Homo sapiens: one gene and its partners. The protein of the gene in region 5 purifies or fractionates together with the protein of the main gene of each other region. This does not show direct contact. Each region holds a gene or a part of one and is shown on either strand. Other genes may lie near its edges.

Region 1 (3,500 bases), on a different chromosome or scaffold from region 5:
GGCAGAATAAGTCAAAGAGCATTAAAATTTTTTTGTTTTTCCAGAAGCAGCAAAGTTCTGAAGGAGACGCAAGTAAAGATACCACAGGTGTCCTAGATTGTCAACAGACCATTTAATCATTTTTGTTAACAAAGCAGGTGACAATTGAGCCCTAATTTGCGTTATCATTAGTTGTTACAGGATCTTGCTTGTTCTCCTGAGGCCACGCCACGATTTCCGAGAAGCAGGTTGCACACTCAGCAGTCTCCCACTAGCCAGTGGCACTGCAGGTGCAGGGGCTGCCTCCTGGACCTTTCAGGACGCTTTGCAAGGTCACTGAGGATCTCCATTGCACATTTGGTAGAATTAAAAGACTGCCAGACTCAGTCTTACTGTTGTTAGTGTATTCGTGCTGTCAATATGTGATGAGGACATATTATATTCCGTTATTCTCTTTAGCTCAAGGAAGAATAAAGAATTTGGACCAAAATTACAACCACATTATGACGAATTTTCTAAGCAAAAGAAACAAAGTAACTGCTGAGGTTAACAAAGATGTAATAATTCTCTTCACACAGCCTTGTACTGTTTTATTGACTGTATTATCACAAATCCTGAGCTTAACGAAAGTCTTTATAAGTCAGCTCATGAAAACAGGCACGTGGCCAGTAAGAATTTAATTTCATACCAATAACACTTCAGACTTCGGATGTATTTAAGGCTGTTTGCACATATTTATAGAATGTGTGGTGTAGATGATGGGACAGCTCCCCCTCAGCAAGACTCTGGCCTAAATGTATTTGCTTTATTTACACAACAAGAGGATAAGCGTAAACACGGGCACTTTCAGTTTGTGGCACTGAAGGACGATCTACACAGGGCACCCTGCAGAGGCCACAACCAAGGCCGCCTGGCTTCCCAGTGGGACAGGCCTAAGGGAGGACTTCTGGCCCCTTTGCTTGATGTTCATGTTTTATGCCTTGATATTTCTTTTTGGTTGCATTCCCTGGAGCTCATGTAGATCATTTTACTTTTCAGAGGTGCTAGTTCTGGTGCCCACACGCACACACACAAAACCATCAACTCTTCTGGATTCCTTGGTTTTAAAGCTTGCCTCATACAAAGTACAGAGACATCTTTTTCAGGAAACATTGCCACCACATGCTTGAAGGACCGCTTATGGCTACACTTAGACATCTCCAACCAAGGTCTCTTCACCTCCTTCTACAACAATGCACTTTGTCTGCACTGGGACAAAAAATGACAGCCTTTTTTCTTTTCTTGTTTTTTTTTTTTTTTGGCGTGGAGCATTTCCGAACTTTCACGTCATAAAAAATGCAGCATAGTTAATCAGCAGCTTGCACTTCTGAGGGCACATTCACCTCGGGGGAGGAGGAAGGAGGAGGAGCTGGTGGGTGCTGAGACTGCAGTGTCCTCCTTCCCAGCAGCTGGACCCAGAGACCAGGCACCAAATTTTTTTGATGAAATTATCCTAAGGAAATAATCAAATTTGTACAGAAATTTATGTTAAAAAATGTTCATGGCAGCACCGTTTAAAATGGGGAGAAAATTGGAAACAACAGAATTGTAGCAATACATATGATCATTAAAAATTATGTTTTAGAAAGATTTTTAACAGTCTTTGGAAAAAGTTGGTGACATGTTGCTAGTTTTTAAAAAAAGTACAGAGTATGTACAGTATGATTCCAATTTTGTGTTTAAAAATTAGACATAGTGGTAACCTAGCTTCAGTTCCAGATAAGATGGAGAAGGCATACTCCTTTCATGTCTCCCACTGAATGCAGCTATAAATCCTGGAGAGTAGACAGGGAGAAACTATTTGAGGACTCTGGAACAAAGACATAGTAGCAATCGACTGGTGAAGAAGACAAGAATTTGAAGTACGGTCAAGTATCTGTGGGCTCCACATCTGTAGATACAACCTACATGTATTGAAAATATCAGAAAATAAAAATAACAATACAACAATAAACATCAATACAAATAACACACCAATACAGTATAGCAGCTACTTACATAACACTGACATTGTATTAGGTAGAAGTAATCTAGAGATGATTTAAAGTCTGTCGGAGGATGTGTGTAGCCTGTATGTAAAAACCACGTTATTTTATATGGGGGACTTTAGCATCCAAGGATTTGAATATCCACGGGGGTCCTGGAACAAGTTCCCCATAGACACCAAGAAACAACTGTATTCCTGAAACAGTCTTGAGTTATCATTTTCTTTCTTCTCCCTCTATGTATGTACATAGAGTGTACATACATAGAGTGAGAAGCAAAGAAGGTCCATGAAATGGACCAATTCTTTTGAAAACTGCAAATTACCACAGTTCATCTAACATGAAATAGATAACCTGAATGGTCCAATAACTAGTAAAGATATTGAATTAATAGTTTAAAAACCTTCTGAAAGGTAAATCTCTACCCTAAATGATTTCACTGGTGAATTCTATCAACACATTTAATGAAGAAAAAACTCCAGTTCTAAACAACTTTCAGAAAAGAAGAGGGAACACTTCCTCACTCATTATATGAGGTAAGCATTGCCCTAATACCAAAACCAATGTTAACACAAAATATGAAACCTACAGACCAATAACCCTCATGAACATAAATGTAAAAATCCTCAAGAAAACATTAGCAAATTTAAACCAGCAGGATATAAAAGGAATAATAATACACCATAACAAAAAAAGAAACTATCCTTGGAATGCAAGGCTGGTTCAATATTTGAAAATCAATCAGTGTAATCTACCATATTAACAGTCTGAAGAAGAAAAATCATGATTATATCAATACAGAAAAAAATTGACAAAATTCAACATCAGTTCATGATAAAATTCTCAGCAAACTAGAAAGGGAAGGAAATTTAACATGACATAGGACATCTACAAAAAAACCTACAGAAAATCCTAAGGAGTCTATGAGAAAATTTCCTAAAACTAGTAAGTGAGTTTAACAAGATCACAGAGTGCAAGGTCATCATACAGAAGTCATTTTTATATCTTAGCAATGTACAATTAGAAATTAAAGAATATCACAGTAGCTTCAAAAATATGAAAGGCTTAGAAATCTAACAAAATGTGATCTGGATGCTGAAAATGATGAGATGATAATGAAAGAAACCCCAGAAAACCTAAATAAATGGAGAGATAAGAAGGCTCAACCTAGTAAAGACGTATGTTCTTTTTAAATTGATCTGTAGACTTAATAAAATTCCAATTAGAATCCAAGCAGGATTTGTTCTTATAGATAAGCTCATTATGAAATGTATATGGAATGTAAAGGAACTAGTGCTATGGTTTGTCCCCACCAAATCTCATGTTGAAATTTGATCCTCAGTGTGGTGGTGTTGGGAGGTGGGGCCTAGTGGGAGGTGTTTGGGTCATGGGTGTGGATCCCTCATGAATAGATGAATGCCCTTCCTCGTGGGTAGATAAGTGAGTTCTAGCTCTTTCAGGTCCCAACAAGAGCTGGTTGTGAAAAAGAGCCTGGCA
Region 2 (3,500 bases), about 72 Mb from region 5:
CAGTATATTTGAAACAGTTCTGTAATTCAAGCTCTGATTCTTCCACATAATGTAAATAAATGTACTGCAGTTTACCAAAATGTTTTCATCTCTCCTTCTAGAAACGGTGGGTTGCTGTCCTCTCCCAGGATTATCCAACACTTGCTTTCCATGCAAGCCTTACTAACCCGTTTGGCAAGGGAGCATTCATTCAGCTTCTGCGGCAGTTTGGAAAGGTATTGAGCCCTGATCTGTTTCTCCTGGAGTTGTGTAGCTGTGAGTTGGTATAAGAATCTGTCTTGCCATGGCATAGCAGAAAGTTGCCAACTTCTTAGCCGGACGTGGTTGCGCAGGTCTGTAGTCCTAGCTACTCAGGACGCTGAGGCAGGAGGATTGCTGGAGCCCAGGAGATCAAGGCTACAGTGAGCTATGATGGCACCACTGCACTCCAGCCTGGGTAACAGAGCAAAACCCTGCCTCTAAAAAAAAAAGATGTGGCCGGGCGCGGTGGCTCACACCTGTAATCCCAGCACTTTGGGAGGCCGAGGCAGGCAGATCACAAGGTCAGGAGTTTGAGACCAGCCTGGCCAATATGGTGAAACCCCGTCTCTACTAAAAATACAAAAATTGGCCAGGCATGGTGGCACACGCCTGTAGTCCCAGCTACTGGGGAGACTGAGGCAGGAGAATCGCTTGAACCTGGGAGGCGGAGTTTGCCGTGAGCCGAGATTGCGCCACTGCACCCCAGCCTGGGCGACAGAGCGAGACTTCTCAAAAAAAGAAGAAGAAGATGTAAAAACTTCCAGAGATGTAAAAACTCACAGAGCATCAGGATTATAAGAGATTCTGAAGTGTTTTCTTGCTCAGCCTTTGCCCCCATCCGTGACCAGTGTTGCTTCCATTTCTGCCACAGCCCTGGCACCTGACGTTCCACGCTCTGCTGGGCTTTCCAGGCCTGCTGTGCATCCTCTGCCCATGGAGCCCATGCAGCTTCTATGTCCTCTGGTTGGAGAGGGCCCTGCCAAAATTCAAGCTTCAGATCCCTGGTCAGACGTCAGCTCCTGAGGGAAGCCGTGGAACCAGACTACCCTATCAAATTCTTAAAGCTTCATGTTCTGTACCTGTCATTTTGAATTTGTCTATTTAGTTAATTCTACCTGGCTTCTAACAAAAGACACATGTCTGCTGTCCCACCCTTCCCCACTTTACAGAAGCAAATGCTTCCAATAGCCATTAGTTCTGTTATTTTCCTCCATATTTTTAGTACATGCTTATGATTTTCTTGATCTGTGCCCACCCCTCACCCCCAGTTTAAGATGCTTATTAATTTCTTACTATGGAAAATGAGGATTTGCTATCTTATAGCCATCCTCTCTCTGTATGTACTTCCCCCTGTATTGTTAGATGCCAATGTTGGGTTACAGTATTATTCATTCAGTGTTGGTTGGTTGTTGTTGTTGTTTTAACTTGGAAAGGAGAGCTTTATTTCTCATAAAGGGTTGCAGCCTGCAGGGTGGCCACTCTAACAGGCTGGGAAGAGTAGTCTTGGCCATTCAGTCTTTACATTGTCATGACTGTAAAATATTAGTCACAGCTGATCCACATGGTGTGCTATGAGTATAATTCCTTTCTGATCGAAGCTTTTATTTTCGCTAGTGTTACTTTGCTGTGTTCTATTTGTATCTGTCACTATCATACTACCAAATTCTCTGATACAGTGGGAACTGTCAGAGCTTCCAGGCAGCACAGGTAGTTCCCTTCGGTGGCCAGCACTCCGTCCTCCGCAGGGCTGGCCGCTCTCCAGGCTGCTGCAGCGTCGTCTTTCTGGGATTTCCTTTCACTGTCATCCAGAGAATTCCCATGGCTGTTTTCCTGTATGGGACCTCTTATTTATAGGACCTCTTTTCTTCTTTTCTGGTTTACTCCTTTCTTTCCATGGGACATATTTTCCAAAAGTTTCCTGAGAAGGAATACTTGGAAAGAACATTTTTTTGAGATACGCCTTGCGTTCTGAAAATATCTTTATTAAGATCTTTATTCTACCCTTTATGCTGTTTTTCCTCAGAATACTGAGGTTACCACTGCACTGTCTTCTGAATTCTGAGGAATCTGAGGCCATTCTGACCCCTCATACTTTGTGTGGCTGTGATTTCTTGTTTTGAGACAGGGTCTTGCTTTGTCACCCAGGCTGGAGTGTGGTGGCACAACCACAGCTCACTGTAACCTCAAACTCCTAGGCCCAAGCGATCCTCCTGCCTCGTTTTGGCCTCCTGAAGTGCTGGGATTACAGGTGTGTGCCACCACGCCCAGCCAATCTTTTCTTATTCTAAAATTTAAAATTTCTCTTGTTCTAAAATTTCACAGTGGTGTGTCTTGAAGTGGGCCTTTTATTGCTCAGTGAGCTTGGCGTTTGATGAGACTTTAGTCTGATATTGTCTTACATTATTTCTTTGAAATTTTCTTTCCTCCCTCAGTTGTCTGTATTCTTGTTCAGAAATTTGCTTTTACCTCCTGGTTTAATTCTTGATTTATATTTGCTTTCTTTTTTTTTTTTTTTTTTTTTGAGGCAGAGTCTCACTCTTGTCACCAGGCTGGAGTGCAGTGGTGTGATCTCGGCTCACTGCAGCCTCCGCCTCCCGGGTTTAAGCGATTCTCCTGCCTCAGCCTCCCGAGTAGCTGGGACTGCAGGCACACGCCACAACGCGCAGCTAATTTTTGTATTTTTAGTAGAGACGGGTTTTCACCATGTTAGCCAGGATGGTCTTGATCTCTTGACCTCGTGATCCGCCCGCCTCAGCCTCCCAAAGTGTTGGGATTACAGGCATGAGCCACTGCACCTGGCCTATATATTTTTTCTTTTGGTACATATATGACATTTTCCTCTATTTTCTGGGTACTTTTTTTTTTTTGTGAGACAGAGTTTTGCTCTTGTTGCCCAGGCTAGAGTGCAATGGCGCGATCTCGGCTCACTGCAACCTCCTCCTCCCAGGTTCAAGCAATTCTCCTGCCTCAGCCTCCCGAGTAGCTGGGATTACAGGCATGTGCCACCACACTTGGCTAATTTTGTATCTTTAGTAGAGACGGGGCTTCTCCGTGTTGGTCAGGCTGGTCTCAAACTTCCGACCTCAGGTGATCCGCCCCCCTCGGCCTCCCAGAGTGCTGGGATTACAGACGTGAGCCACTGCTCCCGGCCACTTTCCTTGTTTTGATCATCCAGCTGCCCAGTCACAAAATTTATTTTGCCAATTGCTTTTAATTTTTAATTTCTGAGAGCTCTTGTTGAATTCTGATTTGCTCTGCCTCCTTTTACATCTTATTTCACAGTCACAGTATCATTAATGACGTTTTGAAATTTTCCTGTCTGCATTGATTCTGTTACCTCCAAATTTTTGTGGGTTTTTTTGTGTTTTCTGCTACAGTCACGCTTAAAAATTTTTTCTTTTACTTTAAAAATTTTTTTGAGACAGGGTCTTGTTCTGTCTTAACCCAGGCTGAAGTGCAGTGGTGCGATCATGGCTCAC
Region 3 (3,500 bases), on a different chromosome or scaffold from region 5:
GCTTAAGATTTTTAGACTCCACTCTAAAAGTGAATGGAAATAAATGAAACCAAATTTAGTTGAACAAACCCAGCTCCACTAAACCAAATGGAAATGAAATGAATGCAAATTAAGCCCACTTAGCTTAACGGAAGTAAGTTCTTCCTCTGAGTTAAATCAATGGAACTGAACTTGGGCCAATCACACTGAATGGAGTGCAATTCAACCTAACTGGATTGAATTAAACTCAAATGAATTCCGTTGGATTGAACCTAATCAACTTGTCCAAGATCAACATCAACCCAAATCAAAATAATGGAAATAAATCGACTCGAACTCAACTCTACCCAAGTCAACCCAATCCGATTCTACCTATCTAAACCCAACTGAACATACGCAGGGCAATTCAACCCACCTTTGTTAATCAATGGAAATGAATATAATCAGCTGAAATTAGCCCAATTCAACCCAATTCAACTGAAATCAATTGCATCTAATCCAACAACCCAGTTCATCCTAACTCAAGACAATTTAACCCAGTTGAGAACAACTTGACTTGAATGTAAATGAACTAAATGGAAATGAATGAATTTGTACTCAATAAAACTCAATGCAATCAACCAACTTGTTCTTCTCTCTATTTTTTTTTTTTTTCTTTCAAGAGACAGAGTCTCATTCTGTCACCCAGGCTGGAGCGCAGTGGTGCAATCATGGCTCACCATAGACTCGAACTCCTGGGCTCAAGTGATCCTTCCACCTCAGCCTCCAAAGTAGCCAGGACTACAGGTGCGCCACCACACCTGGCTAATTTTTGTATATTTTGCAAAGATAGGGTCTCGCTATGTTGCCCAAACTGGTCTCGAGCTCCTGGCCTCAAGGGATCCTCCTGCCTCAGCCTCCTAAAGTGCTGACATTACAGGTGTGAGCCACTGAGCCCAGCCTGGCTCACTAATTTGTCAAGAACAATTTTTTTTTTTTTTTTGAGACGGAGTCTCGCTCTGTCACCCAGGCCGGAGTGCAGTGATGCGATCTCAGCTCACTGCAAGCTCTGCCTCCCAGGTTCACACCATTCTCCTGCCTCAGCCTCCCAAGTATCTGGGACTACAGGTGCCCGCCACCACGCCCGGCTAATTTTTTTGTATTTTTAGTAGAGACGGGGTTTCACTGTGTTAGCCAGGATGGTCTCGATCTCCTGACCTCATGATCCACCCACCTCGGCCTCTCAAAGTGCTGGGATTACAGGCGTGAGCCACTGTGCCTGGCCGTCAAGAACAATTTTAACTTAAGTCAACCAAATAGAAATAAATATAACTAAACTGATTATGGTTGAACTAAACAATCTAATTTAATCCAGTTCACCTCAACTCAATTCAAATGAGAGTGAGACTGATTCCAACTCTAGTCAACTGAATGTAAAGGAACAGAATGAAATCAAATTGAACTGAACACAGCTTATGTGTTATATCCTATCAGAACCTGGGTAGGGGCTGCCTCCAGCTCCCACAGCCTCCTGAGATCCCACTATCTCAATACTAACCATCCCTGTTTGTAAATTTCCAGTTTGTACATCTTTCCCTCATAATAGGCTATAAGCTCCTTATAGCCTAATTTAATCCAGTTCACCTCAACTCAATTCAAATGAGAGTGAGACTGATTCCAACTCTAGTCAACTGAATGTAAAGGAACAGAATGAAATCAAATTGAACTGAACACAGCTTATGTGTTATATCCTATCAGAACCTGGGTAGGGGCTGCCTCCAGCTCCCACAGCCTCCTGAGATCCCACTATCTCAATACTAACCATCCCTGTTTGTAAATTTCCAGTTTGTACATCTTTCCCTCATAATAGGCTATAAGCTCCTTACAGGTGGTGGCTCATGCCTGTAATCCCAGCACTTTGGGAGGCTGAGGCAGGAGGATCGCTTGAGCCCAGGAGATCAGCCTGGGCAACATAGTGAGATGCCATCTCCACAAAAATACAAAAACTAGCCTGTCATGGTGGTGCGTGCCTATAGTCCCAGCTACTTGGGAGGCTGAGGTGGGAGGATCACTTGAGCCTGGGAGGTCGAGGCTGCAGTGAGCCATGATTGCATCACTGCACTCCAGCCTGGGCAACAGAGCAAGACCCCATCTCAAAATAAATAAATAAATTCAATTCAACTCAACATTTACTGAACAGTGACTGTATGCCAGACATAAATTTTTATGCCAGGCTGGGAGTGGTGGCTCACGCCTATAATCTCAGTACTTTGGGAGGCCGAGGCAGGTGGATCACCTGAGGTCAAGGAGTTCGAGACCAGCCTGGCCAACATGGTGAAACCCCGTTTTTACTAAAAATACAAAAAATTAACTAGGTGTGGTGGTGGGCACCTGTAATCCCAGCTACTCGGGAGTCTGAGGCAGGAGAATCATTTAAACCTGGGAGGCAGAGGTTGCAGTGAGCTGAGATCACACCACTGCACTCCAGCCTGGGAAGCAAGAGTGAAACTTTATCTCAAAAAAAAAAAATTTTTTTTTATGCCAAACTCAACTACGCAACCAAATGTACTGAGTGCCGACTATATTTTATCTAAACTTACAGCTCATGAACTCTTCTCCCTAATCCTGAGATGTGGGTTAATGACCCCATTTTATAGAAGAAGATACTGAGGTTCAGAAGAGTTAAATCCCTCGGGAAGGGGCAGGGCTGGGACTGAAGCCTGTGTCTAGTTGGCATCACTGTTCCCTTCTGACCCATCTGGAGTCTCACCGGGTCTGTCTGGTACTCCCGGCTGTACAGTTCATGGCAGTTATTGAAGATGTACTCGTAGGTAGAATTAAGGCAGGCTTTCACACAGTCCTTTACCACCTGGCTGGCTCGGGGCGGGCTCTGGAGTTCTTGTACCTGAAGGGAGGGAGAGAGGCATAGGCGGCCACAGCTGTGACAGGAGGTCCCCAGGAAGTGACTGCGAGTCATTTTGGGTTTAAGGAAATGAAGTGGTATGAAAGGAAAAGGTTACTGAGAAAGGCTGCCACTCTCCAGGAGGAATGTCACTTGTCCTGGGAGCTGGGGATCCTAGAGAACCCTCCTTGGAGAGCAAAGGCAACTGGATCCTTTCCTACCTTCATCCGAAAGAAGGTGATGCTGGTGAGAAGGTCCACAGTGGATTTGAGGTCCTGGAGTCTCTCCGGGCTGCTGGCTGGGAAGTTATTCTGTTGGGAGCAGGAAGAGATGTGGGGTTATGGAAGAAGGCGTGGGGAGGATGGGAGACTGCTTTTCAGGGGGATACAAAGGCTCCCCGGTTTCAGGCTGGGGGTTGATTAGAGCACCTCGAAGCAACTGGGGATCTGCTTGGATGCACCAAGCACATTACGGCAGGTAGTGCCCATGCAGGTGCACACATGCTGGAGGAACACATCGTACATGCGAAGATGGGTCCTCCCATGCACACACCTGCTGGTAGCTTTCCCCTCCAGGCACACACATGTGCGTGGGGTGAGCAAATTCTCATGCACACACTTCCTACCCGGTACATGGAGAG
Region 4 (3,500 bases), on a different chromosome or scaffold from region 5:
ATGTAGGTAGCTTCAATAGTTTAGAAAATTCATTTGCATTATTCAATCAAGAAGGACAAATAAAATGACATACTTTTATTTTTATCTTTTTAAATGGCAAACACACAGAACTGGCAGTCAACCGAGGGCAGAAGATAAGGGTAACTCCACTAAAAGACACCATAAACCAGGAAAGTGGAAAGAGTCAGTGTGAGTGACACAGGTCAGACCTACCAGGTGCTACCTGATATTTATTTAAATGTCAAAAGAATCAGAAGAGGAGATTGAATGCTCCTCACTACCAGTGTGCAACTGAGGGGCGGGGCTGACTGCGCTGTGAATACCAATTCTGTATTTCCCGACCAGGAAGCCGAGCACCTGCACATGCGTTAGGCATGTAGTTTCCTTGTTTCAGTAGCATATAAAATAGCCCAAACTCTCAAAAGGATTAAGAAGTCTGCAAGATTCCCAGGATAAAGCTGCACAATTACAGTTTATGCAACTTTCATCCAACAACTGCATAACTGAGGGGAGGAAGCACTGCTCTCCTGCTCTCCTGCCAACGTCTCACCATCCAGTCAGAAAACCTCAGAAATGGCTTTGTATCGATTGACATTTTCCCCTCTGCAGATATAGCCTCTATCTGCAGAGACCTTTTGCATTAAAAAAAAATACAAAAAACTACAAACCAAGCTGGAGTTGAGCCTTTAAATAAGTATGATAAAACTGACATTTAAAATTATACAATAAATTAGCTCAAGTTAGAATTATAAACTCAGGACCAGGGAAAGGAATAATTATATATCAGAACTAAAACGATATAACCAACCAGGTGCAGTGGCTCACACCTGTAGTCCCAGCACGCTGGGAGGCTAAGGCAGGACGATCACTTGAGCCCAGAAGGTCAAGTCTGCAGTGAGCTGAGACTGTTCCTCTGTGCTCCAGCCTGGGCAACAGAGTGAGATCCTGTCTCAAAATAAAAATAAAAATAATGATACAGCTGATATTTAGGCAGTAGCAAATTTTACAACACTATTTGCTACTGTAATCTTAGTAGAGTAAAATTTTAATCTTCACTCTTCCCAAGCTATGTACAATTGCATCTTCCTGTTTGATTTCCTGGACGATACATGAGTTGCAATATGAATCATCCTCATCAACTAAGTGAATGAGTTACAGTCGTTATCAGCATACCCACTGGCGAAAATCTTTATTATCTACAATGCTGAAAAAGCAAAAGTTCCATGAAATGGGTCATTTCTAATAAATCATAAAACAGAACCTACCTTAGAACTTAATAGTCACTTACAAATGTATCCACATTTTACAAAAGAGGAAACTGAGTCTGAAGGGAAATGGGTAGGTGACTTGTCTGAGCGAGTAATGGCCAGAGTGAGATTTTCTGTGATCTAAGATAGTCCACCCTAGAGGAAACTTTAAAATAAGTGTGCACCGTGATTGGAAAGCTAGCTGATAAACCATTCTTTTCCTCACTCCCTGGACTTTTGCTTCCTTCTCCCTTTCCTACGTAGGCCCAGTCTGCATGTCCTTCCCGTCTCCACTCCAGCTCTTCTCTGCAATCTGACAATAGATCCGAGAATCCTTCTGTTCTGCATACTGACTCCCTCTTCTCCCCAGGCAAGGCTAATAGATACAGAACCCTCGCTGGAAGACAGAAAACGAAGGCACGAGGCACTCAGCGGTCTCACAGGGTCACCCAGCAAAGGAGTGGCTTAACTAGAAATAGAAAGCAGATGCTCCCGGCATCCATTAGATTAAAGCAGATTACAGAGGCTTATCCCAGCCTCAGCAAATGCTTCAGATGAAATCATGCATGCAGTCTGGCATCAAAGGAAAATTAGAAGATTCTACCTGTAAAAGTGAAAGCGTAAAAGGCTGCCACATCATCCGAAAGTTACAGGTCACTGAGTTTTATTAATTTGCTCTGCAACAGCACCTTCTGTGATCTCTAGTTTTTCTCTACAGTCTAATGAAAGAAGAAATGCTATTTCAGGGACTGGGTATGAAGTGAGCATGTACCCTCTCTTCAAAAGGACTGAGGGCCAAGGAAGCCTGTATTCTGTTCCATAGCACGCTGGGGTGGAGAAGAACCCCAGTCAGAAGGGATACGGGCGACAGCCAAGAAAGTTCCATGTGAGAGAAAGAACGGAGGAAGCGGAAGAGCCACGGCTGCTGGAGAGGGAAGGGAGGCCCAGCCTCTCCCTGCACACAATCCCCAATCCACTCAGCTCTGCCACGGCCTCTCACCTCAACCAAACCCAGCCCTCACTTTTGGGCTCCTGGCCCTAAATGAAAAGCATCATCAATACTTCAGAGTAGTGGGGATTCCAGCTCCCACTGCTATCCAGGCTGGCTGTACAAGTTAAGAGCTTCCCAGCAATGCCCTGATACGCATGACATTCCTAGAAGACCAAAGCAGAGATGTGCTGTTCCTGGCATATCAAGGTAGAAACACATCCAACCTCCCAGGAAAGAACCATCAACAGAGACTAGATATTACAGCATCAGCAGCATCATCACGCTTCTTATGTAAACTATGTAATAAGTAGGTTTCTAATTCATGATACTGTTCTACAGACAAACTGGGGAGTTGGTTCTATTAGGTTAAATTGCTTCTTTCCAATGCAAGATCGCCACCTAGTGGCTGAAGACAACAACCGCATGCACAAATGATTTCACATACTGGGAAGGGGCTAGGGAGGTGGTGATGAAGGAATAGGAATTCTCACCCAGGTCTCAAACGGCTTTTTACCCGACTTGGCAATGACTATGGAATGCCTACGCTGTGAAATGGAGAAATTACGTGGAATAAAGGGTCAACCAGGGAGTGTGCTTTATCACACTGGAGGTATCAATATAGAGCATAATTCTCTAACCTGGCGTATTAAAAGCTATTTAACACCAACTTTCAGCTGTGAAAAAACACCATGCAGCTAAAAATGTTGGGCAAGAAATTAAAATTATTTTCTGACCTAGCTACATAAAGTCCCGTTTTCCTCTAAATATAAGCTGATTCCATTTTTTAGCTCAGCCACAGGACTTGTTTACAGTCTAAAACCTAATCTGGGTCCCATCTCAGATCTCCTAGATCTGAATTCTAACAAGATCCTCAGGCACACCACAGTCAATGCGAAGACTCCAGCGCTGTTTCACAGCAATGCAGTCGGAGCTGTCCATAAAGCATGAAGTCGCTATTGGCCCAGAGCTAAAATGCTTCAAGCAACTCAGGACAAACACGTAGATTTCAATAACAAGTAAAGAAATGCTTAATCTTACCTTTTGTGAATTTCATATAGTGAACACGGTTTTTGGAGATTTTGGACTTTTCCTCAAGGCTAAAAGATTTCTTTTCCTTCTTGTCCGAGGAATCTTTAAAAAAGATGAAAAAAATACATTAAAGTCTTTCTAATCCAATCTCATTTATTCTCCTAACAGTGGATAGTCTTGAAAGAAAATTTTAGGAGCCCTATCATTAATGATTGAACTCTTTCATTCATTTG
Region 5 (4,141 bases):
GATGATGGCGGGGTAGGGAGACAGGATGGGCAAGGGAGGACCAGACTGACCTGGTAGGTCCTGGGACTGCCACTTTCCTGGGGGGCTGCAGATTGCTGCGAGTGGCACCCATGACAGGAAGATTTAGTCGCTGGGAAACAGGAACTTCATGGGGGTTAACAAAAGAAATGAGTTAGCAGCAAGTTTAACTGACCTCGAAAAGAAATACTGGATGAAGGGAGCGAGTGTGGGATTAGTACTCTCCCCCTGACCATGAGGTATTTGAAAACTAAGACTCAGACTCTGTCCAGCCCCATATCCTCTCTGTAACTCAGTCTCCCCATCTTCCAATTGAATTGCAATAAGGATGGCAAAAGTGGTCACTGTTGACAGCTCTGGGAGGGTGAGGACACGCTGGGCAAGGGCGGGCATTCTTCCTCCTGACCTCTTACCCTTGTGTCCACTTTCCCGCACTCTGTGTCCTGCAGTGCTTGGTCTTGGAAGCCCTTTTCGAGTTGACAGAGAATCCGGAGGTAGGGCACCTCTGCCAGGTGGCACACTCCGGCTGGTGAGTGGCATTCGGCTGGCAGGCCTGGGGATGGCCGAGGGAATGGGCAGTTGACTGGAAGATTTAGCAGCTGCTCCCTGCGGCCGGGGCAGGCGTTGAGAGTTGCTGGTAGAAGGCTGTGGGGCCAGGACGGATCTGATGGGGGTGGGTGGGCCTGGTGGAGAGGGGTGGAGAAATTTCAGGGTCAATCCCACAAACTCCCCACTCCCACTCACCCGCAACTTGGCTGCTCTGGTCTCCTCACTGGCTGCTGCTCTCCCACTGGGCCCGGCTCTCCCCCGGACTGGGGGAGTCGATCGGGTAAGAGGAGAAGATGCTGGGCTTTTGGATGCAGGGAACAGATTGCAAGTGGGTGACTCCTGAAACACAAAGAGAGAGAGAAAAAAGACTAGAGTGGAAAAAATATCTGTTCTGTGGCTTAAGGAATTAAGAAATAGAGGTGGAGAGTTGTCTACATCCCAGTAAGGAAGGGTAGAAGTTAGCTGCTAACATCACCACATCACCATCACCATCACTATTGCCAATACCATTTATTGAGTTTATCATAGACATATACTCAGACACTGTGGTAAGAGTTTTGGTTCTCTTTTTTCATGGTTCTCATTTAATTCCAACAATTCTAGATGTAGAAATGCTATCCCTGTTTTACCAATAAGGAAACCACTCCCTGCATCATGGCACACACCATGTCTGGGGCACACCTCCAACTCAACTCTCTCAACTCACCCTCTTCATGTTGGAGGGCCTCTTTCCAGATGTAGCCCGGAGAGCCCTGACTGACCCCTTCCTATCATTACTCCGGAGTCGAGGCGTCAGGCTGCTTGGGGAGGGGGTGCTCCGCGTCAAAGAGTTCACAGTGGGCAGCAGGTCTCGGACAGGACTATCCTTCAGCACAAAGGTCTCCCGCCGAGGACTGGGCTTCACTCGGCGAGGCCCCAGGCCCTCGCCTGCGCTCTCCCGATCCTGCAGGGCACACTGCTCCAGCTGAGCGGCCAGCCGGTTGGCCTCATCGAGGATCTCCTCCAGCTTCTCTGGACTGAGGGGGCCTAGGCTGAGCCTCACACCCTGGGGGGCAGGTGCCACTGCATTTGGGTCACTTCGGTGGGAGAGGCCCCGTCGAAGTGGTTTCTCTGGAGTCACCAACACTGTTATGTCTTCCTCCTCACGGCTGAGACAGGAAACAAACCAGGCATCATGCCCATGCAAAAGGGAACAGGAGATTATGCAAGGGAGACTGCATAAAAGCCCCACAACAGAGCCAGGGACATGACCCTAGGCCCCGATGCCCATGCTGGCTGTGAGATGTGGCCTCTGGGCGATGAGATACCTGGTTCTATGGGGCCTAATAGGCCTTTAGCATTTACGGACATCAGAAATGATGCCAGGATGGAGATGCAGCAAATCCACTTATCCTTCTTCTTAACACCCTGAAATCTAACTCCAGCTTCTCCCTTCTCTCCCCGCTACCAATAGTGTCATAGAGGCCCGAGTCAGCCAGCCGCCCAGCAGCCCCAAGTGCGCCAAACCTTGCTAAGTTACCAACCCAAGCCAATAATTCAGCAGTAAGGGATTCGAGACAAAGAGGTACTGTTAGAGGAAAATAAGTGGGATAAAGAGGCTGGTACCTGTCAGATGGTGACAGCCCCCCAAAGTCCAAGGTCTCATCCACAATAAACCTTACATCTGAAGGGGAAAGAAGAATGAAAGCCAGTCATGGGTCCCTGATGCAGCTCTCCATCGCTGGGTCTCACTCCTCCCTTTCATTCTTCCCTCCCTCCTTTCCTTACCTTCCTCCAAATCCTCCATGTCCAGCCAGCAGGAGCGAGAGTCCAGTTAGATCTGAGCTGGAGAGAAACCATACCTTTCCTCAGGTATCCATTCTGCCCAAGGCTCGCAGCTAGATTCAGGGTGCAAGCCAGGGTCGGGGGTCATGCTGGAGGCAAAGCAAGCGCCCAGGAGTGGCACCTCCCGCACAGCTACTCCTGCTACCTCCGGGAACGATACGGAGGGCTCCCCCAACTGCCCAGATTGCCCTGGAGCCGCCCTGCATCCTGGCCTCTCCTCACTGGGGGCGGCCTGCACGCCCCATCTTCCTCCCCGCCACTATCCTCAGGGTTCTGCACTCCCCAAGCCACCTTTCCACTCCCCTGGCATCACACGCGAAGCACACCTCCAGCCCACCCTGTGTCCACTTCCCGCGCCGCCTTATCTTCCACGCAACAGGCTTTCTCCCGCAACCTAGTCCCGGGAATCAGCTCCGAGGGGGCGGGGCTCCTTTCGAATCTCTCAGGCCCCACCTACTCAAGCCACACGCGCACCGTGATTGGTGAATCCTCAGGGGGAGGGGCTGAGGAGCTGCCGGCCGGAAGTCAGCCGGTGGGGGCTGGGGGAGAACCGTTCCCAGAAGACTGCATCCCGGTGGCGGAGCCGAGGGTTGAGGCTGCGAGTGCGCGTGCTCGCGTGCGCGGAGACTCTCTTTCCCGTAGGCAGATGGGAGCAGAGCGCGGCTGGCCAGGAGGGAAGAAACGGACCCACGAGTATGGAACTCGCGCCCCGCCCCGCTCCCTCTGCTGGGCCGCCGAGCACCCAGTCTCCAGAACGGTTGTGCTGCCTAACGTGGCCGCTAACCGACGCTCTACGGGAGGAAATTCGTTTTCTTGGGCGCACTCAATATGCAGGCGCCGCATTGGCCGAGGTTCCTCAGTTGTGGGTTTTTTCCAAGTTAAGGGAGCACCTAAACACTTATATTGTAGGTATATTGAGGTTCTCTTAGAAGTACATCCTCCATCGCCTCTTCAAGAACCTGAGGCAGCTGAGGTGCAAAGAAAGCAACGGGCTTTTCACGCAGGCAGGCTTAGGTTCAAATGCAACCCAAGTTTAACTGACCTCAGAACCCAAGTTTCGGTTTAGAGGCGGCTGCCTTGAGTATATTTGCCCTCTTTTCACCTCTCTTCGCTTATCTGTGAAAGGAGGATGTTGGTCCTCGCAGTTACGGTGTTACGAGGATAATTATGAAGGCGTTTTCTACCGTGTGCCCTTAGGGGATTTAGAGGGGGTGTTTGTAAGTAGCCCCCTCTGAACTAAAAGCAGTATTTGTAAAATGCTTAAACCAACTTGTTAGGAGTGTTGTCTCTGTTGTTTCTAAATGTTGCCCGGGCCACCAGTGAACTTGTCAGAGGCTTCAAACCAGAACGACTCCATCTGGAATAGAGGCTGGGTAAAATAAGGTTGAGACCTGGGCTGTATTCCTAGGAGGTTAGGCATTCTAAGTCACAGGATGAGATAGGAGGTTGGCACAAGATACAGGTCACAAAGACCCTGGTGGTAAAACAGCATGCGGTAAAGAAGCCAGCCAAAACCTACCGAAACCAAGATGGCGATGAAACTGACCTCTGGAGGTCCTCAGTCCTCATTATACGCTAATTATAATGTATTAGCATGCTAAAAGACACTCCAGACAGCATCACCACGGTTTACAAATACCATGGCAACATCAGGAAATTACCCTACATGGTCTAAAAAGGGGAGGAATTCTTAGTTCCAGGGAGTTGCCTACCCCTTTCCCGGAAAACTCATGAATAATTCATCCCTTGT
Region 6 (3,500 bases), on a different chromosome or scaffold from region 5:
GAGCCCAGGGCCTAGGGCAACACATCTCTACCCATTTTTGTGGGGGCAGTTTTGTTTTTATTTCCATTTGGGAAATTGTCAAGTAAATCATGAGGTTGAATAGGCAGAACCACGCTGCCAGGCGGCTCTAAAAGTTTCTCAGTGCCTACACTCAACATATGCTCTCCTCCAGCCATGAGCCGACTTTGCAGACTGTGTGGAGCACTTTATTCCTCTCCTCAGAGGTGGTTCTCGCAGCCACCCCTGCCAGGGGCCCACAAGGCACTTCTCCCAGGGGGGTGGGTGGATGTGGTGGCTTCGAGTCACCCTCCGTAGTGGCATTGCAGGCCTGACCATTTGTCTTAGGTCTGACCAGGGGTAGGAGCGGGGCTGCCTCCTCACAGAATGATGGTGATGTGTGTGTTGCAAAAAACCGCTTCTTTGTGTTGATTTTCCAGGAGAAGAGCTTGAAGTTGTTCAGAAGGAAGTGGCAGAGATGCTGAAGGGCAGAATTCTAGTGGGGCACGCTCTGCATAATGACCTAAAGGTACTGGGCTCTCTCCTGGGGACTCAGCCTGCCCCTGCTCCGTGGGTGTTACACTCACGCCCTTGCTGTGTTGGGGAGTTTTAACAATGTGTGGGTTTGTGCTCTATGTTGGGAATACTTTGGTAATAATATCAGATACCGCGTGCTGAGTTCTTACTGTGTTTTAGGAGCCATGCCAGGCTCTTGTTTTGAGAGCCCCCAGCGAAACTGGGGTACCCATACCAGAGCAGCTGGCAACCCCGCCCTAATGAGAAATGAAGGTGCTGATACCCCTTTTACCTGGAGGAAGGCCTAATGTCCAGTTGTCCCATCCGTGACCAGGGTCCCTCCACAGGAAACAAGTTTATCCTGGCAGATGCCCTGTGGCCCATGTTCAGGTTACGCTTGCCTAACCATCACCCTGGCCCTGGGAGCTTGCCTTTGCCTTCTTTCTGGCGTCCCGAGGAAAATCCCGCCTGGGGCAGCCCCTGGTTCTTCAGATGGAAAGTGCAAATTCAGACACCACCACCGTGGGAAACAAGTTCAAAGACATATACAGACCCTGGGCAGGGAAGGCGTCATGGGTGGGGAGGGCAGCCTGCCATCTCCTGGTCACCCGAGGCAGGAATGAAGAGTCAGGCAGAGCGAGTACGTGTGTATTTACAGGAGAACAGGGTGGGGGTCACTTTGAGTTTATGGGCAAATGCCTGGATGTTGGTTTAAAGGACACAGTGGGAACAGCGGGGAGGCCAGTCTGCTAGATGGGAGAGACACTTAAGTTGTCACCTCTGCCCACCGGCTTGAAGCACTTGGGTGTGGTGAGGAACTTGAAGCCGTTCAGAAGGAAGTGACAGAGATGCTAATGTTCAGGCAGCAGCCTTTGCTATGGTGCTCCCGTGACGGCACTGTAGAGATCCCTTGAATCCATTGAAGATGCTGGAGGTGTTCATGCTTGTTTACAGAGGGTGAAACTGAGGTGAGAACCCCCCGGGCAGTGTCCTCACAGAAAGGTCTTCTGTGTGCTCCTGCTGTACCCCCTCAGAGACTGCTGCCGTGGGGACTCGTCCTTCCCTCCTGACTCTGACTCCATCCCTGGCACCTTGCGCAGCACATGTTCAAGTCTTTCTTGAAGATGATGCTAAGGACCAGACACAGTGGCTTATGCCTGTAATCGCAGCTTTTTGGGAGGCTGAGGCTGGAGGATTGCTTGAGGCCGGGAGTTAGAGACCAGCCTGAGTAACATAGGGGAGACCCCATCTCTATAAAAAATTTTAAAATTAGCCAGGTGTGGTGGCGTGTGCCTGTTGTCCCAGCTACTCAGGAGACTGGGGTAGGAGGATCAGTTGAGCCCAGGAGGTTAAGGCTGCAGTGAGCCATGATTACCCTATAGCACTGCAGCCCAGGTGACAGAGTGAGATCCTATCAAAAAACAAAACAAAACAAAAAATTGCATGCTAAGATTGCAAGATGAGCTGTTAAAATGTGTTATTTGCAACTTCCTGATGTGTAGAACCAACTCAAAATACAAGTATAATATAGGAATAAGTTGGTTGCTGGTTAACTGTTGACTGTTTTTCTCCTACTTCCTTGATTTCAAGATTTTGTTTTTATTGTCTCTGACTGTTGGGCATCAGCTTAAGTCAGTGCAATAAATTTCCTTCTGGAGTTGAAATTCATATCAGTGCCTTGTTTCCATGTGTGTGTGACACACTTGGATTCCCTACAAGATGTTACTTGCAGGGCAGCCGCGTTGGCTCACACCTGTAATCCCAGCACTTTGGGAGGCCGAGGCGGGTGGATCACCTGAGGTCAGGAGTTCGAGACCAGCCTGGCCAACATGGCAAAACCCTGTCTCTACTAAAAAATACAAAAATTAGCCAGGCATGGTGGCGGGCACTTGTAATCCCAGCTACTCGGGAGGCTGAGGCAGGAGAATCACTTGAAACCTGGGGTCGGAGGTTGCAGTCAGCAAAGATTGAGCCACTGCATTCCAGCCTGGGTGACAGAGCAAGACTCCGTCACACACACACACACACACACACACACACACACACACACACACACACACACAAAGATGTTACTTGCAAAAGGTGGCGGGGGGAGGGGGTTCTGCTACTACAAACCAAAAATGAAAATGATTATCATTATATTTTATTTTTCTAGGTACTATTTCTTGATCATCCAAAAAAGAAGATTCGGGACACACAGAAATATAAACCTTTCAAGAGTCAAGTAAAGGTACTTAGAATGAGTGTGACTCAAGATACTGTATTTCTGTTTTGCTGGTCACTTCATTGTTTCTGGTCACTGGTGGCTGACTTGTTGGTTAAAGGGTTTTTGTTTTTTCTTTTAACCTTTAAAACTAGAAGGAATGTTTAAAAATAGAGTTCTGCTAATTGCTGACCTTAAAAATGATTGCAACGGAGGGCAAGTTATTTCCACTCTAACCTCTGAAACAGGGTCACTGACTAAGGGCCTGGTACCACTGTCGTATCTGCTCTAGAGGGTGCCAAGGGCAGAGCCGTTCTTCATCCTTTTTTTTTTTTTTAGACAGGGTCTTGCTCTGTCACCCAGGCTGGAGTGCAATGGCATAATCTTGGCTCACTGTAACTGCCACCTCCCAGGCTCAGGCAATCCTTCCACCTTAGCCTCTGAAGTAGCTGGGACTGCAGGCATATGCCACCACCCCTGGCTAATTTTTTTATTTTTATTTTTTTAGAGATAGGGTCTTGCTGTGTTGCCCTGGCTATTCTCAAACTCCTGGGTTCAAGTGATCTGCCCTCGTTGGCCTCCTAAGTGCTGAGATTACAGGTGTGAACCACCATGCCTGGCCAGAGCTGTCCCTCTTGAAATAAGCAGGGAGGCCTCAAGATGGGAGATGGGGATGCTGACTCCTCCCCTGGCCCTCTCCTTTTATTGGCTGATAGGGGTGTATCACCAGCCCATCATGCTATAAATGGCAGCTGGTGGCTACCACCCTAAGTGCCATGAGCAC
Region 7 (3,500 bases), on a different chromosome or scaffold from region 5:
TTCTGGAAACTCCTTATTGAATATTTCAATGAATTTTAAGCTTTCTAGGTTGTTATTTACTCCTTAAAAAGTACTTGGTGGTACTTAAAATGATGCTATAAAGATGAAATAAAATTTAACCTGATCTAGAAGTTTTACTTATTTCCATGATAAATTCAAATTATTGAATTCCATAAATGTTCTCTATAATAGGTTCTTTTCCCACGGACCTTTCTGAAACTAAAGGACAGTCATTATAGACTCAATAATTCATTCCCCTTCTGTGATGTTCATTTCATAAAATTTTAACTACAAAAGGCAGGAAGTGAGCTGAACTGAGCACCAGAGCAAATGGTAGGAGGCTAGTATTCAGCTAGTAATAAACTTTCAAGCAGTTACATGATCAACGGCAAATCATTTTACTTCTCTGACACTGTACAATTGTTAATTTTAAAAACTTCATATTTTTAAGAACTCAAAGATGCTTTAATTTTCTTAAAAATCATCTCAGAAAGGTTTTGCTATATTTCACCTTTAATTGTATTTTATTCATTCACTCAATCATTTATCATCTATTAACTAAACACTGACTTTATGCCAGGCACTGTGGTAGAAGCCAGGAATACAAAATGGAGTAAAATATACCCTTTCTCAACAAGCTCACAACTGAAATAATAAGTTAGATTGAAACCTTCCTAACATAGGTTACCTAATATAGCATTTAGGTATTAAAAAAAACCTCATAATAAGCAGGTGGGACTACTTAGCCATTACCATTTAAAATTTACTGAATTCAGTTTGAGCACATATGGTAGAATGGAAAGATAATATCAACTTGATCATTTTTATGTTTTAGTAAAGGAGTCTACTTGTGCTTTTACTGATTATTCCTACCACAGTCAGCACCACAGTGACACTGATATATCATAAAAGGATTAATGAAATTTTTGGTAAAATATTCACCTCATTGTTGTGAGGATGGAAACATTAAATACAGTAGAAATTTGTCATACTACGTAAACTAACAAATTGAGAACTCCTTATTATGCTTTCATTCCAAGATAACCGAAACTATGGTTTGATGATAAACACAGGAATCTTTTATACAAAGCAAAATTAACTAAAAACTAGCTGCACATGTGGAAAAGATGCTAGCTAAGTGAAATTCACAAGAGTTTTTTAAATAAAAGGTAAACCCCATATGCAATTTTGAAATATAAAAGTAAATGTAATAAAATTACAGTTGAGAGCATCATAACACCTAACTTTCGAAAAATAAAAGTAACCGATGCATTTTGGCATTTCAATGGCTTCTTCCTTTGAAAGAAAAATGATGCTATAAGTAATCAAATTTGACACAATGTTAACATTAATCAATTTACTAATTTAAAAGGATGTTACTAAACATTTAAATCAAATACAAACATATGCTTCAATATTCCCTACTTGTAAATCTAAGAACAGTTTAAAAGATCAGCTGAAGAGCCCAAATCTCAAATGACTGCTTAAAAAGCTCACAGACACCAGGAGTCTCTTAAAAACAAACAACAACCACCACCAAAAAAAAAAAAAACAAAAAACAAAAAAAACAGGCATTCATTTGATGCCTAATAAGTACTTAATTTTATATTCCCTTAATTTATATTTCCATTAGGCAGACAGATGCAAAGATCTAGCTCCAAACCACTTTCTCCCCAATACTGTAATACAGAATTGGAAATGTAGTAAAGTTTGCATCATACTAATTTGTACTTTTTTATGATTACCTAAAAACTAATAAACCAACCAGTTCACTTCATGTTGTCGCCAAACTGAGCACAGCTGCTTTCAAGGTATGGTCACTATGCCTATAGTAAATTTATTTTTCTGGGTTTTTCTTTTTTTTTTTTTTTTTGAGACAGAGTCTTGCTTTTTGCTTTCAAGGCATGGTCACTATGCCTACAGTAAATTTATTTTTCTGGGTTTTTTTTCTTTTTTTTTTTTTGAGACAGAGTCTTGCTTTGCTACCCAGGCTGGAGTGCAGTGGCACGATCTCGGCTCACTGCAACCTCCGCCTCCTGGGTTCAAGCAGTTCTCCTGTCTCAGTCTCCCCAGTAGCTGGGACTACAGCCGCCCGCCACCATGCATGGCTAATTTTTGTATTTTTAGGAGAGATGGGGTTTCACCATATTAGTCAGGCTGGTCTGGAACTCCTGACCTCAGGTGATCCACCCACCTCGGCCTCCCAAAGTGCTGGGATTACCAGCATGAGCCACTGCGCCCAGCCTATTTTTCTGGTCTTAATGAACTATAAGCTAAATTGAAGATGAGATCTATCCAATATTTCTGTTCTAACTCCTCAGAGCACCTACTACACTGCTATGAACTTGATGTGAACATCAAAAAATAATTAGTTAAGTATTAACTGTGTTCAAATCCTGGCTCTGCCACTTGCTAGCTGTGTGATCTCAGGAAAATTACTTAACATCTCTAGGCTTTAATTGCCTCATCTGTTATATAGGTGCCAGGTGTTAAAATAGACTCTGCCTTATAAAACTTGTTATGATCCATGGTAGACTGGATAAATAAAATGTGGTACTACATATACACCATGGAATACTATGCAGCCATACAAAAGAATGAGACCATGTCCTTTGCAGGAACACAGATGGAGCTGAAGGCCATTATCCTTAGCAAACTAACCCAAGAACAGAAATCCAAATACTGCATGCTCACATTTGTAAGTAGGAGCTAAATGATGAAAACACATGGACACATAGAGGTGAACAACAGGCACTGGGGTCTATCAGAGGGTAAAGGATGGGAGGAGGGAGAGGATTAAGAAAAATAATGGGTACTAGGATTAATCCTGGGTGATGAAATAATCTGTACAACAAACCCCCTTGACTCATGCTTACCTATGTAACAAACCTGCACATGTACCTCTGAACTCAAAAGTTGAAAAATAAACTATATCCACACTAGTACACAAATGGAGGCATGCTCTGTCATACATCCTGCTGCATTTAATGTATAAGAAAGAACCATTGGTCCTTGTTGCTCACTTCTGTGAACAAAAAGTGCACTAAGGCCATGGGAGTCATCCACTTTCAGGTCAAGGTCTATCCTTTCCCTTGTGGTAAATACCAGGCCAGAGATGAATCAGCACCAAACCAAAGGCCCTCATCCAAATATGAGAATGCTGACTCCTTCTCATTTAAAGAAAAAAAAAAAAAAGAGATTCTTTTATTTTCAATAATCCTTTATTCTTGGGAAAACCCAGTTTAAATGTGACCTAATTTTTTATTTTATTTAGCATATTACATCTATGATCATAAGTAAGATAAACCCATAATTTTCATTTCTAATATCTTCTTTATCTGAGTTAGGTAGCGAAGTTATACTAGTTTCATAAAAAACAGGAGGTGTCCCTCTCTTTGATTCTCCAGGAAAAACTGAAGTAAAAATAAAATTATGTTTATTGTGCAGCCATAAAAAAAGAGTAAGTTCATGTCCTTTGCGGGGACATCGATGAAGCTGGA

Evidence for each region.
Region 1: the proteins of PSRC1 (region 5) and PRMT2 purify together in Homo sapiens (affinity purification with mass spectrometry; 3 studies listed by BioGRID and IntAct, with this or other methods). This does not show direct contact.
Region 2: the proteins of PSRC1 (region 5) and GNL2 purify together in Homo sapiens (co-immunoprecipitation; one large-scale study listed by IntAct). This does not show direct contact.
Region 3: the proteins of PSRC1 (region 5) and UNC13A fractionate together in Homo sapiens (co-fractionation; one large-scale study listed by BioGRID). This does not show direct contact.
Region 4: the proteins of PSRC1 (region 5) and PINX1 purify together in Homo sapiens (co-immunoprecipitation; one large-scale study listed by IntAct). This does not show direct contact.
Region 6: the proteins of PSRC1 (region 5) and REXO4 purify together in Homo sapiens (co-immunoprecipitation; one large-scale study listed by IntAct). This does not show direct contact.
Region 7: the proteins of PSRC1 (region 5) and YTHDC2 purify together in Homo sapiens (co-immunoprecipitation; one large-scale study listed by IntAct). This does not show direct contact.

What each region holds. Positions count from the first base shown.
Region 1 is NC_000021.9:46,652,674-46,656,173, forward strand, and holds part of PRMT2 (protein arginine N-methyltransferase 2), read left to right. Parts: exon of another isoform or gene 1-171; coding exon of another isoform or gene 172-381; exon of another isoform or gene 382-2,424; intron 2,425-3,500. UniProt on the Homo sapiens protein: Arginine methyltransferase that methylates the guanidino nitrogens of arginyl residues in proteins such as STAT3, FBL, histone H4. Acts as a coactivator (with NCOA2) of the androgen receptor (AR)-mediated transactivation.
Region 2 is NC_000001.11:37,578,938-37,582,437, reverse strand, and holds part of GNL2 (nucleolar GTP-binding protein 2), read left to right. Parts: intron 1-101; coding exon 102-215; intron 216-892; coding exon of another isoform or gene 893-1,096; intron 1,097-3,500. UniProt on the Homo sapiens protein: GTPase that associates with pre-60S ribosomal subunits in the nucleolus and is required for their nuclear export and maturation.
Region 3 is NC_000019.10:17,636,355-17,639,854, forward strand, and holds part of UNC13A (protein unc-13 homolog A), read right to left. Parts: coding exon 3,486-3,500; intron 3,172-3,485; coding exon 3,082-3,171; intron 2,864-3,081; coding exon 2,729-2,863; intron 1-2,728. UniProt on the Homo sapiens protein: Plays a role in vesicle maturation during exocytosis as a target of the diacylglycerol second messenger pathway.
Region 4 is NC_000008.11:10,822,876-10,826,375, forward strand, and holds part of PINX1 (PIN2/TERF1-interacting telomerase inhibitor 1), read right to left. Parts: intron 3,370-3,500; coding exon 3,277-3,369; intron 2,569-3,276; exon of another isoform or gene 2,498-2,568; intron 1-2,497. UniProt on the Homo sapiens protein: Microtubule-binding protein essential for faithful chromosome segregation. Mediates TRF1 and TERT accumulation in nucleolus and enhances TRF1 binding to telomeres. Inhibits telomerase activity. May inhibit cell proliferation and act as tumor suppressor.
Region 5 is NC_000001.11:109,280,346-109,284,486, forward strand, and holds the start of PSRC1 (proline/serine-rich coiled-coil protein 1), read right to left. Parts: upstream 2,801-4,141; 5' UTR 2,718-2,800; exon of another isoform or gene 2,392-2,717; 5' UTR 2,354-2,391; coding exon 2,335-2,353; intron 2,231-2,334; coding exon 2,173-2,230; intron 1,716-2,172; coding exon 1,274-1,715; intron 907-1,273; coding exon 792-906; coding exon of another isoform or gene 702-791; coding exon 432-701; intron 145-431; coding exon 51-144; intron 1-50. UniProt on the Homo sapiens protein: Required for normal progression through mitosis. Required for normal congress of chromosomes at the metaphase plate, and for normal rate of chromosomal segregation during anaphase. Plays a role in the regulation of mitotic spindle dynamics.
Region 6 is NC_000009.12:133,408,011-133,411,510, reverse strand, and holds part of REXO4 (RNA exonuclease 4), read left to right. Parts: intron 1-437; coding exon 438-526; intron 527-2,668; coding exon 2,669-2,743; intron 2,744-3,500.
Region 7 is NC_000005.10:113,520,194-113,523,693, reverse strand, and holds part of YTHDC2 (3'-5' RNA helicase YTHDC2), read right to left. Parts: intron 1-3,500. UniProt on the Homo sapiens protein: 3'-5' RNA helicase that plays a key role in the male and female germline by promoting transition from mitotic to meiotic divisions in stem cells.